Linked DNA regions of Homo sapiens: regions 2 and 3 are each linked to region 1. The links come from fine-mapping of genetic effects on gene expression. A gene starts in region 1. Each other region holds a variant in brackets. All regions are shown on one strand. Distances are from middle to middle.

Region 1 (4,000 bases):
CTTCATAAAACCAAGTTCAACATCAGATTCTCCAGTATCTCCTACAGTCCAGCTACTCAACATGTGGTCTGGGACCAGCAGTATCTGTATCACCTGGGACCCCACCCCAGCTAGACCTAGAGAGTCAGAATCTGTAACTTACCAAGATCCCCAGGAGATTAGTGTCCACATTAAAGTTTGAGAAGCACTGTCCTAAATACAAGCAGCACTGGCTTGATCAGAAGCACTGTCCTAAATACAAGCAGCACTGTCTGACCAGTGGCACAATCATAGCTCGCTGCAGCCTTGAACTTCTGGGCTCAAGCAATTCTCCCACCTCAACCTCCCAGGTACCTGGGACTACAAGCATGAGCCACCTCGCCCAACTAGAATTTGCACAAAGCAGGAACTCAACAAATATTTTGAGACTCGGGGCCCTGGGAATCCCAGGAGATTCACAGTTTTGCCATTACATCCTTCTTTACACCCCCCGCTTTGAACTCCTTTCCTTTGGGGCCTCTTGGCTTTTTGCGCCCTCAAAAGGCAGATATGGCCAGGTGCCGTTGGCTCACACCTGTAATCCCAGCATTTTGGAAGGCCGAGGTGGGGAATCACTTGAGGTCAGGAGTTCGAGACCAGCCTAGCCAACACGGTGAAACTCCATCTCTACTAAAAATACAAAAAATTAACCAGGTGTGGTGGCGCACGCTTGTAATCCCAGCTACTAGGGAGGCTGAGCTGGGAGCATTGCTTGAACCCGGGAGGTGGAGGTTGCTGTAAGCTGAAATCGTGCCACTGTACTCCAGCGACGGAGTGAGACTCCGTCTCAAAAAAAAAAAAAAAAAAAAAAAGGCAGACATGAACCTAGGAGTGCGGAGACACTGAGGCAGTGGGGGAAAGGGGGTGGGGTAAAGTGAGGTGAGACAGCTGCTTTCCCAGCAGAGCCAAGAGCAAATGTGTTGGTGTTGGCTTCAGGCCTACATTTATGGTGAGGAACTGGCTTTATTTCTTTCCTTTTCTTTTTTCTTTTTCTTTTTTTTTTTTTTTTGAGACGGAGTCTCACTCTGTCGCCCTGGCTGGAGTGCAGTCGCGCAATCTCAGCTCAATGCAACCTCTGCCTCCTGGGTTCAAGCGATTCTCCTGCCTCAGCCTCCCGAGTAGCTGGGACTACAGGTGCCCGCCACCACACCCGACTAATTTTTTTGTATTTTTGGTAGAGACGGGGTTTCACCGTGTTAGCCAGGATGGTCTCGATCTCCTGACCTCGTGATCCTCCCGTTTCGGCCTCCCAAAGTGCTGGGATTACAGGCGTGAGCCACCGCGCCCAGCCGGAACTGGCTTTATTTCTAAGACAAAAATGCCTAGCACTTGAGCATCTGAGCCTCAAGAGGATAAGGAGTTTGTGATAGACAACACTGGGACTGTTTCTAGACTTGATTTATTGACTTGTCTGTTTCCATTCTGTTACTAATCTGATTGACAATGAAGCCCGGGATGTGGCTGGAAGGGATTTCTGCGTGCGTGCGCATGCTATCGTCAGGGCCATGTGGGCCCGTTTGGAGCAGGTGCTCCCGTGGGTGGGGGATGTTTGAGCGAGGGCTGTTTGCGTGTGAGAAGGGCGTGTGTGAAAACGACACGGGAGAAGTGGGCGTCTCTAGGGAGTTGTTTGTATGTGATGTGAGATGTGTTTGCCTGGATCGGGAAGTAACGTAGGTTCGGGTATGTGCAGTGCGTACGGTTGGATGGGAGGAGGTTGTGGGGCTCCCAAGGTAGCACGGGAGGAGGAGGCTTACAGACACATCTTACAGAACCTAGCCCCTTTTCTTGCCCGCCTAGATTTTCCTCCTAGATTATAGTTTCCCAGTTGCGAGATCCTGGGAGAGGGAAGAGGAGAGGCGTAAGGCTCCCTAGAGTCAGGAGTCTGGGGGCTCCCCTCTTTGCGTCTCGCACGAGCTGGGAGCTGGGGAAAAGAACAGATGGGGATGGATGCGCTCCCCACAGGGGACCGCGTGGCGACACGTAAAGGATTCAACCTCAGTCCAGTAGTCGCATCCTCTGCCCCAGGGCTGCCCACTTCACTTCTTGCCTGTGCATACCGGCTGGAAGCCCGCGTACACTCTTCCGAGCTACGGGAGGAGGAAGACCCTGTTAGGGAGCGGAGCCCCGCCTCTCCCTTGTTACTGAAGCGCCCCGCCCCCTCCCCGCCCGGCGGAGCCCCGCCCCCCTCCCCACCCCCGCCCCCGCCCCCCACCCGCCGCTGCGCTCCCCTCGCTCAGTCTGGCTGGCCCCATGTTACTGAGCGGAGCTCCTCCGGCTGGCTCCCGCCCGGGGCCGCGAACGCAGGGGAGCGCTGGGGGCGGCCCGGGGGGGTCCCGCCGGGGCGCCGGGGGTGCGGGAGCCGGCCCAGGAGGGGGCGGCAGCGGCGGAGTAGCCAAGTGGCTCCGGGAGCACCTGGGCTTCCGCGGGGGGGGCGGCGGCGGAGGGGGCAGCAAGCCGGCGCCCCCCGAGCCCGACTACCGCCCCCCTGCGCCCTCTCCGGCCGCGCCCCCCGCGCCGCCCCCGGACATCCTGGCCGCCTACAGGCTGCAGCGGGAGCGCGACTTCGAAGACCCCTACTCCGGGGGGTCGTCCGGCTCCGCCGCCCTCGCCACCCCTGTCGCCCCCGGACCCACGCCGCCCCCGCGCCACGGCTCTCCCCCACACCGCCTTATTCGGGTCGAGACCCCGGGGCCCCCGGCGCCGCCTGCTGATGAGCGGATCTCCGGACCCCCCGCCAGCAGCGATAGGGTGAGTGCCGCGCCGGGCCGGGATGGCCAGGAGGGAAGGCGGTCAGGGGTCTGGAGGCTGCGAGAGGGACAAAGGTGGCCTGGCCCGGGCCCCTCGGTGTCTCAGCTTCTGGCAGACGCGAGCCCCTGACCCCGGGGTTCCGAGCCTTCACCCACCTTTGTTCAGATTCTCAACCGACTAATCTGAGACGGAAGCCCCAAACTCTGCCCCTCTGCCCTATCCTTTGTAATGGCCCCAGAACTGGTGACCCTCCCCCTCCCGGGCTGGCTCTCCACTTCGTAGCCCCCTCTAGCCTGATCCATGAGCCTTTTGCTAACGGGAATTGAGGCGCACCTCCCAACCCCCACTGGTTGATGGCCTTTCTGCCCCTCTGGAAGCAGCGGCTCAGTGCCCTTTGATCTCTGACCCTTCCCCCTGGGCATAGCCAGCACAAAGCTCTTCCCTCCTGTTGCCTCTTTGCTTCCTCCTCCTCTTCCTCCTCCTGTTTCTCCAGCCTAAGCATCCTTGCAGGTGCTGAAGCCCCAGAAAGGAGGTGAAGACGGGTTTCTCCTTGCGGACACAGCACGAGCTGGCCTTTGCCCTATAGGCTGTTGTTCTCAGGAGGCGAAGACAGGCAGCTTACAGCTCTTGCCAAGGGGGCTTCGTGGGGTCCAGGCCCACTCCTCCCTCCTTCCCTCGTCCTCTCAGGTATGAGGATAGTCAGTGCTCAGGACCTGTTGCCCACATGGGGCTAAGCAGCTGAGCCCATTCCTCCTCTCCTCCTGGCCTCCCTCTCCCCCTGGTCCATTCTGAGGGAGGCTGGAGCTTTTCCTGGGTCTGCAGGCACCAGGATAGGGAGGAGAACAGGAAATCCACCATGCCTCAGGGCCCTGCCCTGATTCGGGTTGGCCTTATCCCTCCCTGGCAGAGTGAGAGCTGAAAGCCATCCCAGGCCCCTAAATTCTGTGATGATGACTCTGTGGGCTGCCTTGGCTCTGCTGTCCTTCTTCACTCACCCCGAGAGCTCAGTTCTGGGGCCTGCCCCCTTCTCCTCAGCAGAGAAGAACATTTTTATTTGATTGGAGTGCAAAGTTGCTTTCCGAATCCGTTGGCTCCAGGATTGAGGCTTTTTAGCTGAGAGAGCGCCGTTCCGCCAGATTTCCTGGATGAGAGAGATCTGTCAGGGTCAGAGCAGAAGCCTCAGGAATGCAAATTATTTTTCCCCTAGTTTTTGCCATGGGGCATGGCTGCCCAT
Region 2 (4,273 bases), 97 kb before region 1:
AGAAGGTGTGTTGATTTGCTCTAATAAAGATATTATAGGAACTGCAACTGAGGCAATGACTCAGTTAAGTTTATGGTAGTCTGTTACCATCCTCCATTATTTATCTGTGCTTTTGAAAATAATTGAATTGAATGGGAATCTGTGCCCAGCACACTTCCGCTGCACTGTCTATCTAACTGAATGGGAATGTGACTGGAAGACGAACTCTGGACACTTTTACGTCTTTTTTTTTTTTTGACAGGGTCTCATTCTGTTGTCCAGGCTGGGGTTCAGTGGCATAATCATGGCTTACTGCAGCCTCAACCTCCTGGGCTCAAGTGATCCTTCCACCTCAGCCTCCCAAGTAGCTGGGACCACAGGTGCGTGCCATCACTCCTGATTAATTTTTTAATTTTTGTAGAGATGAGGTCTCCTTATGTTGTCCAAGTTGGTCTTGAACCCCTGGGATCAAGCAGTCCTCCCACCTTGGCCTCCCAAAGTGCTAGGATTACAGCCATGAGCCCACTTTGAGTCTTTGATGTTGGTGCTAATCTCTGCAATTCCTCTTGGGATATGGTAATACTTCTGATTTAGTATCTTAACCAGAGGCAGGAGGTGGCTTGGGGGCTTCTATTTGGCCTTTCCTACCATAAAGAAGTTTATTTCACAGGTCAGAAAACCAAAGTGACAGTTTTCCCAGATTCTAAGTGTATCTGTCTCAATTATACTTTCAGAAACCAGGGACAAAAACTTAAGGCCAGTTCGCAAAACCTCTGGATACATTGTGATATAATCTTGAGCCAGGGGGTCTATTCATCACCTGGACTTAGGAAACCACCAATCTAACTACAGGGCATGATAACATTTCAGGTCCCCAATACCAGCTCTCAGAACATCTAGGTATTCTTCTTTACCCAGTGTAGTTGTCTTTGAAAAATGTCACTTGTCCTTTTAGAGAGGGATTCTAAAAATACTGATGTATATACTTATGGTTGTCTTTGAAAAATGTCACTTGTCCTTTTAGAGAGGGATTCTAAAAATACTGATGTATATACTTATGGTAGTTTTGGAGTTTCCTTCTCAAGTGGACTCAGCCTCCCCTTCAATCAATGGGCTATGGGTTTCTAAACTGACTTAGACTTGGAAACTAGCTGAGGGAAACCAATGTTCCATTGTGATGGCTGATGTCAGCCTTCTGCTTACCAATTCATGCATTTATTTTATAAATTAAGTAATATCCTACATGGCTGTCCATCTGTCTCAACCCTAGGAATACTCAAATCTACTAATTGTTGCCAAAAATATTTATGGGTCAAGGCACCTTGATTGTCGTACTGGCATTGCTGCCCATTATGGTAATTGTATTTACCTTTGCTCTGTTAGTTGAGTGTTATTTGGCTTCTGGTATTCTGGAATTCCATCAACCCTTTTGATACTAGAGATCCGTGTTCCATGGCAGTATCCCCCACTCTTGGCCTTGACAGGGCTCCTTTCACCAATGTATTTCTTATTCCTTAGTATAAGGAAGTTCCCTGGGCTCTTGGAGTATATAGACAGGTGGCGGGTTAGCAGGTCTTAATACATAGTAAATATATTCTAACGTTCTCATTTTCCTATGACTTTTGATCCCTTCTCCAGTACAATGCCAAGATTATTTCTGGTGTGTCCAAGCTTCAAGGAAACAGCACAACAAACTATTTATAGTGACCTCAAGTGCTCTTGCCAAAACACTGGATAACCACTCATGAATGTATGCCCTCAGGTAATGAATTCTCTCTTATAAAACCTTATTTTATGCACTCACTCTCTCTCTCTCCCCAGTCTTACATTTTCAAGATCTACTCCCACCTACATTACCCTGATTCTGTTGACAAAGAGTCAAACTCTGTAAAATATTTTAAGAGGTTTATTCTGAGCCAAATATGAGTGATCATGGCCTGTGACACAGCCCTCAGGAGGTCCTAAGAACACGTACCCAAGGTGGTTGGGGTACAGCTTGGTTTTATATATTTTTAGGGGGGCATGATACATCAATCAAATACATTTAAGAAATATATTGGGCTGGGCATGGTGGCTCATGCCTGTAATCCCAACACTATGGGAGGCTGAGGCGGGCAGAACACCTGAGGTCAGGAGTTTGAGACCAGCCTGACCAACATGGCAAAACCCCAGCTCTACTAAATATACAAAAATTAGCCAGGCTTGGTGGCGTGCACCTGTAATCCCAGCTACTTGGGAGGCTGAGGCAGGAGAATCGCTTGAACCCAGGAGGCTGAGGCTGCAGTGAGCTGTGATCACGCCACTGCACTCCAGCCTGGGTGACAGAGCAAAACTCCATCTCAAAAAAAAAAAAAAAA[G/A]AAAGAAAGAAAATAAAATAAAATACATTGGTTTGGTTCAGAATGGTGGGACAACTCAAACCGGGGGCTTCAGGGTATAGGTAGATTTAAACATTTTCTGGTTGACAATTGGTTGAGTTTATCTGAAGACCTGGGATTAATGGAAAGGAATGTTCAGGTTAAGAAAGAGGATTATGGAGAGACCAAGTTTTATTGTGCAGATAGCAGACTTCAGAGAGAGAGCAGGTTATAAAATGTTTCTTATCAGACCTAAAAGGGTGTCTGGCTCTTAGTTGATTATCTCCTGGATCTGGAAAGAAAGGAAAGAAAACAAAGGGGGAAGGGGATTCTCTACAGGATATGTATTTTTCCCACAAGAGACTTTGTAGGGCAATTTCAAGGTATAGCAAGGAAATATATTTTGGGGTTAAATATTTCTTCCTTGTCTCAATGTTATGCCAGAGTGATTGAAAAGTAAGTCACGATATATAGGGTCAAACAAAACCCATCTGATGAGAATTTATGGTTTGTAGGACATGACTCCCTAGACCCCTTAGGTAGGAATTTGGGCAGATAAAAAAATTAGAGTTTAGTCCTCAGTTCTTACATATTCTCCAGGTCCTACAGTTCCTTTGGAATGGAGGCTAACTCCTTCTGGAGCAGGACCTGTACTTCCCTGCTCAGGCTGTGCTGAGCTCTGGCACAGATTACCAGACTGGAGGCAAAAAAGGCAGAGAATGGAGGCTTATCTTGGGAAGAACGAAAGTTATTCTGCAATGACCTATTTTGGATGGGCAAGGGGAGGCTGTTTTCCTTAGTCAAGAGAAAAGGGTTTTGCTGACAGCATTATAAATAAATAAATAAGAAAGAAAAGGGACTGCTTCTGCTGGCCAGGAAGATTTAGGGACAATTAGGAGCTCCAGATTTTGAGGCTCATCCACTCACATATTTTATTTATTTATTTATTTATTTTTGAGATAGCGTCTTGCTCTGTCACCCAGGCTGGAATGCAGTGGCATGATCATGGCTCACTGCAGCCCCAACCTCCCGGCTTCAAGCGATCCTCCTGCCTCAGCCTCCCAAGCAGCTGGGACCACACCTGGCTATTTTTTTTTTTAATTTTTTTGTACAGACGGGGTCCACTATGTTGCCCAGGCTGGCCCTGAACTTGTAGGCTCAAGCAATCCTCCTGCCTCTGCCTCCCAAAGTGCTGAGATTACAGGCGTGAGCCACGGTGCCCGGCCAGGGAATCTTGTTAACATGCATATTCTGATTCAGTGGGTCTGGGGCGAGGCCTGAGACTCTGCATGTCTAGCAGGTGATGCTGATGCCTTGGGTTCACTGGTCACTCTGCCACTCACATATTTCTTATTCAGGTCTTAACGCCTCACATTTTTCTTTTCTGGAAAATACCTCCACATGGGAAAGCTGTTGAAGCTATGCATTCAATACCTTTAGCAGCTTTGCCATTCTGGATCCTGAACCTAATTTCTTTTCTTTTCTTTTTATTTATTGTTTTTTTTTTTGAGTCAGAGTTTCCCTCCTGTAGCCCAGGCTGGGGTGCAATGGCACAATCTTGGCTCACTGCAATCTCTGTCTCCCGGTTCAGGTGATTCTCCTGCCTCAGCCTCCCCAACAGCTGGGATTACAGGTGTGCACCATCATGTTCAGCTAGTTTTGTATTTTTAGTAGAGACAGGGTTTTGCCATGTTGGCCAGGTTGCTCTTAAACTCCTGACCTCAGGTGATCCACCCACCTCGACCTCCCAAAGTGCTGGGATTACAGGTGTGAGCCACTGCACCCAGCCCTGAACCTAATTTTTTTAAATTTTTTAAAATTATACTTTAAGTTCTAGGGTACATGTGCACAATGTGCAGGTTTGTTACATATGCTTACATGTGCCATGTTGGTGTGCTGAACCCATTAACTCATCATTTACATTAGGTATATCTCCTAAT
Region 3 (4,347 bases), 280 kb after region 1:
TATCTTGGTTTAAATTCCAACTGTAACTCTTATCTAGTTTGTGATCTTGGACCAGTTACTTAAGCTGTCTGTGCCTCAGTTTCCTGGTAAATGGGGATCTTAATGCCAAAATTATAGGGAAATTGTGAGGATTAAGCAAGGTAATACATGTAAAGTGCCTAGGACCGTACCTGATACTTAGTAAGTGCTCAATAAAAAAGCTATGTAGCTTCATTATTATTAGCATATTCGGGTTCCTGTCACAAAGTAAGTGATAAATGATCATCAAACTAGTACTTTGAAAACTCAAATTGGGGCCAGGCATGGTGGTCTCAGCACTTTAGAGGCCAAGGCAGGAGGATCTCTGGAGGCTAGGAGTTCAAGATCAGCCTGGGCAACATAGCAAGAACCCAGTCTTTACTTAAAAAATTAAGTTCAATAAAACACTCAAAGCTGGGCACAGTGGCTCACACCTGAAATCCCAGCACTTTGGGAGGCCAAGGTGGGTGGATTACTTGAGGTCAGGAGTTTGACAGCAGCCTGGCCAACATGGTGAAACCCCGTCTCTGCAAAAAATACAAAAATTAGCTGGGCATGGTGGCGTGTGCCTGTAGTCCCAGCTACTTGGGAGGCTGAGGCAGGAGAATCGCTTGAACCCAGGAGGCAGAGGTTGCAGTGAGCCAAGATCGCACCACTGCACTCCGGCCTGGGCAATAGAGGGAGACTCTATCTAGTGTGGGCAAACTAGATAGAGTTGGGGAGCTTTTTACCTCCTAAGACACAAAGAGTTCATGACAGCTCCATTTTTACCCTAACAGGTTGGAAAAGATAGAAATCTATGAATAGCTGAAGGCAGAATGTGTTTATCCAATACAATAACATAGTTGAAACCTTGAACAAAAGCTTTTTAAAAGTTTGCTTAACGGAAACAATGTTACTTGGAGTAGTTTTTCAGTTTTTTAATTTTTTCAGTAGATGGCATCAATATAATATCCTTCATTTCTTCCCAAGGAAAATTTTTCTCTCTTTACGGGAGATACATGGTAGAAATGTTTATTATTTACCCTAGTATATCAACAATTATCTTAAAGGTAAGTGGACTAAATGCTTCAATTAAATCACCACTTTGGGCAGCTAGAGTTTTAAAATAATTATATGCCATTTATAAAAGACATTTAAAATTTAAGGATGTTAAAATGTTGAAAGTAAAACAATGGAAGATAGGGGCTGGACGTGGTGGTTCACGCCTGTAATCTTGGCATTTTGGGAAGCCGAGGCGGGAGGATTGCTTGATCCCAGGAGTTTGAGACAGGCCTGGGCAACATAGGGAGACCCCATTTCTACAAAATTTTTTTTAAAGTAGCTATGTGTGGTGGCGTGTACCTGTAGTCCCAGCTACCCAGGAAGTTGAAGTGGGAGGAATGCTTTGAGCTGGGATGTTGAGGCTGCAGGGAGCCATGTTTGTGCCACTGCACTCCAGCCTGGGCAACAGAGCAAGACCATCTAAAAAAAAAGAAAAAAGGAAGAAAGAAATTGAAAAAGAAAAAAATCACCAAAAAACCCCAAAGAAAATAGAAGTTAGGAAATAATATGGAATTGTAGTAGAGATAGAAGAAATTAATAAAATAGGAAACAAACTTACAGTAGAAATGATCAACAAATCAAGAAGTTGAGTTTTGAAGACTAAAAGAAATTTATAAATTTCTGATAGGACTGGCAAAGAAAAAGAAAGAAGGCACAGATAATATCAAAAATGAAAAGAGGAATACATCTCAGATTCTAGAGACATTTAAAAAAATTAGAGGAAATTATGACCAAATTAATGTCAATAAATTTGAACATTTACATGAACTATTTAAATTTCTAGGAAATATATCTTACTAAAACTGCCATGAAAAAGAGAAAATCTGAGCAGTCCTTTAACTGGGAAAAATAGTGATTTTATAATATTAAAAATCTTCCTACAGCCCCACTAATTACTAGATTTTGTCATCTTAGTGAGCTATGTAACTTGTTTCCGCATCTGAGAAATGAAGATAGTAACAATGCCATAGTAATATTGAAGGATTAAATGAGAAAATGCCTGTAAAAGTGCATTGCACAGGGCCTAGCATTTGCCACATGATCAATGCATGCTTGCCTTTATTAGTTTCCTTTACAGCTATGGTGTATCACTGAGTGCAGAATGTGTGTGTTCTTCAGGCTCCCTTGTGTGCAGGCTCTGAAAGGTAAAGGGGCCTGCTCTTTGTTCTGAAGTAAAACTGCTCAGGGCATTAGGTGGATCTGAAATTTAAAAATAAAATTGAAAGTAAATCAATCTTTTCCTTAAATCAGATTGTCTCTGCTTTTGTTTTACACACCTGCCTCAATATCAGTCTTGGAATTTTTTTCCCACTGTTGTGGGTGCAATTTTTGTGATATGTACAGAACCACCTACCCTACTCCAGGCCTTGGATCCTGACCTTAGTGGCTTGGAAAAGGCTGTCACTTAGAATTTACACTCCAGTTCTCACTATCACTGTCTCCATTCTTCTTCCATCTCCCCACCCTGGGGTGATTTCCCAGCCTGCTATTTGTTTTCCCGTTC[G/A]TATGGTTCCCCTAATCTCCAGAGCATGTAGTACTCACTAGCCAGACTATTGCCCATGTCTTCTGTGTTACATAAAGTTATTTCCAGCGTATCTGATCTCTTCTCATCCTTTCTCTGTCACTCGGGGGCTTTGCTCAACCTGATTGTGTCACAGTCTTTAGGAGATTCCCTCTTTCTTGATCAGAGAGCCCTTCATTCCTCCATTCCTTGCCTCTGCAATCATGAGGGTGTGACACAGATGAAGGTGTGGCACAGATCTCATCTCTTCCTGGAATTCCCAATCTCAAGAGCTTTCCTTCATGGTGTTGCTGACTTAAACGAGGGTGCCTGCCAACTGTGGGGCCCTCACCCCTCTTAAAGAGGTTTGTTTCCTTGTCACAGTGTTGTGATTTATTTCACTTTGCTCTTATCTTTAAAATCGGGTTCATTTCCTTGTCTTAGTTAGGCTCCTCACCATACCTACTCTGTATTGTGTTTCTTCCTCATTTGTCAGATTTTTTTTTTTTTTTTTTTTTTTTTGAGATGGAGTCTTGCTCTGTCACCAGGCTGAAGTGCAATGGTGCGATCTTGGCTCACCACAACCTCCACCTCCTGGGTTCAAGCAATTCTCCTGCCTCAGGCTCCTGAGTAGGTGGGACTATAGGTGTGCGCCATCATGCCTGGATAATTTTTGTATTTTTAGTAGAGACGGGTTTCACCATGTTGGCCAGGATCGTCTCGGTCTCTTGACTTTGTGATCCACCCGCCTCAGCCTCCCAAAGTGCTGGGATTACAGGTGCGAGCCACCACACGCAGCCCATTTGTTAGGTTTTTAAAAGCTGTTTCTTTCCCTCTCCCCATTCCCATCTGTCCAAATCCTGTCCTTCTTTCAGGCATCATCTCAAAGGATATCTCTGAATGAAACTTCTTTGGCAACCTCCTCTTCTTGCCCCCTCTCCCCACAGGACTCTAGTCCACTTAGAGCACTTAGGTTACTCAACCTAAAGTTATAATTACTTGTGTATACCTGCCAAAGGCCCCTACTACATTGTTAGGTACTTGAAGGCAAGGATTATTTCTTACTAATCTTTGCAGCTCCCACAGCACCCAGCACAGTGCCTGGAATATGGGAGTTACTCAGGTACTATTTGATGAATTGAATTCATACATGTAAGGATCCAGAAGATAAAGGAAAATATTTCCTTCAGTTTCCAGACTGGGACCCAACAGTGCCCTGTTTCACTGTTTATTAGGAAGCAGGTTGTATGGACCTGGAGGTGCCAGATAAAACGAAGGCTTCCATAATACACATTCATCAACCCTGCTAGGGTTGTCTCATTCATTCATTTACGCATTCATTCAACAAACATTTGTTGATGACAGAGTGCTAAACTCACAGCTTTTTTTTCTTTTCCTGTAAAGTGAGATAACAGGGAGTGGGACCCTTCCATTATAAATATAATCTGGTTGGAGAGTTGGAAATATAAACAACTGACTGTAAGGCAAAGTGAAGTAGGTGCTAGAATAACATATAGGTCAAATTCTCTAAGAGCACTAGTCCTTGGTTTCTGCAGGGCAGAAAAGAGGGATATTGGAAAAAATCAGGATGATTCAGAAGAAGGGTAACTTTGTTTTCCCTGGTGGACTCATAGCATCACTATGATAACAACTAGGCCCCGAAAGGGGGAAATCCTGTCATTTCCAGCAACAACATGGATGAGTCTGGAGGTCATTATGCTAAGTGAAATAAGCCAGGCACAGAAATATAAATACCACATGATCTCACTTATATGTGGATTCTA

The links.
Region 2: its variant is fine-mapped to the expression of SHF in whole blood (TOPMed, PIP above 0.99).
Region 3: its variant is fine-mapped to the expression of SHF in sigmoid colon (GTEx, PIP 0.98).

Annotation. Positions count from the first base shown.
Region 1 is chr15:45,186,220-45,190,219 of GRCh38, reverse strand. SHF (Src homology 2 domain containing F) reads left to right here and starts at 2,254. Exons shown (of 7, transcript NM_001394037.1): 1 at 2,254-2,766. The coding sequence starts at 2,269. LOC124903481 (a long non-coding RNA gene) reads right to left here. Exons shown (of 2, transcript XR_007064608.1): 1 at 3,762-4,000; 2 at 1,402-2,105. RefSeq lists a silencer at 2,310-2,359 and an enhancer at 3,274-3,826.
Region 2 is chr15:45,283,053-45,287,325 of GRCh38, reverse strand. No RefSeq gene overlaps it. Among named protein-coding and RNA genes, the nearest start is that of SLC28A2-AS1, 6.0 kb to the right of the region's middle. The variant G/A (reference allele first, on the strand shown) is at 2,337.
Region 3 is chr15:44,903,361-44,907,707 of GRCh38, reverse strand. No RefSeq gene overlaps it. Among named protein-coding and RNA genes, the nearest start is that of TERB2, 51 kb to the left of the region's middle. The variant G/A (reference allele first, on the strand shown) is at 2,567.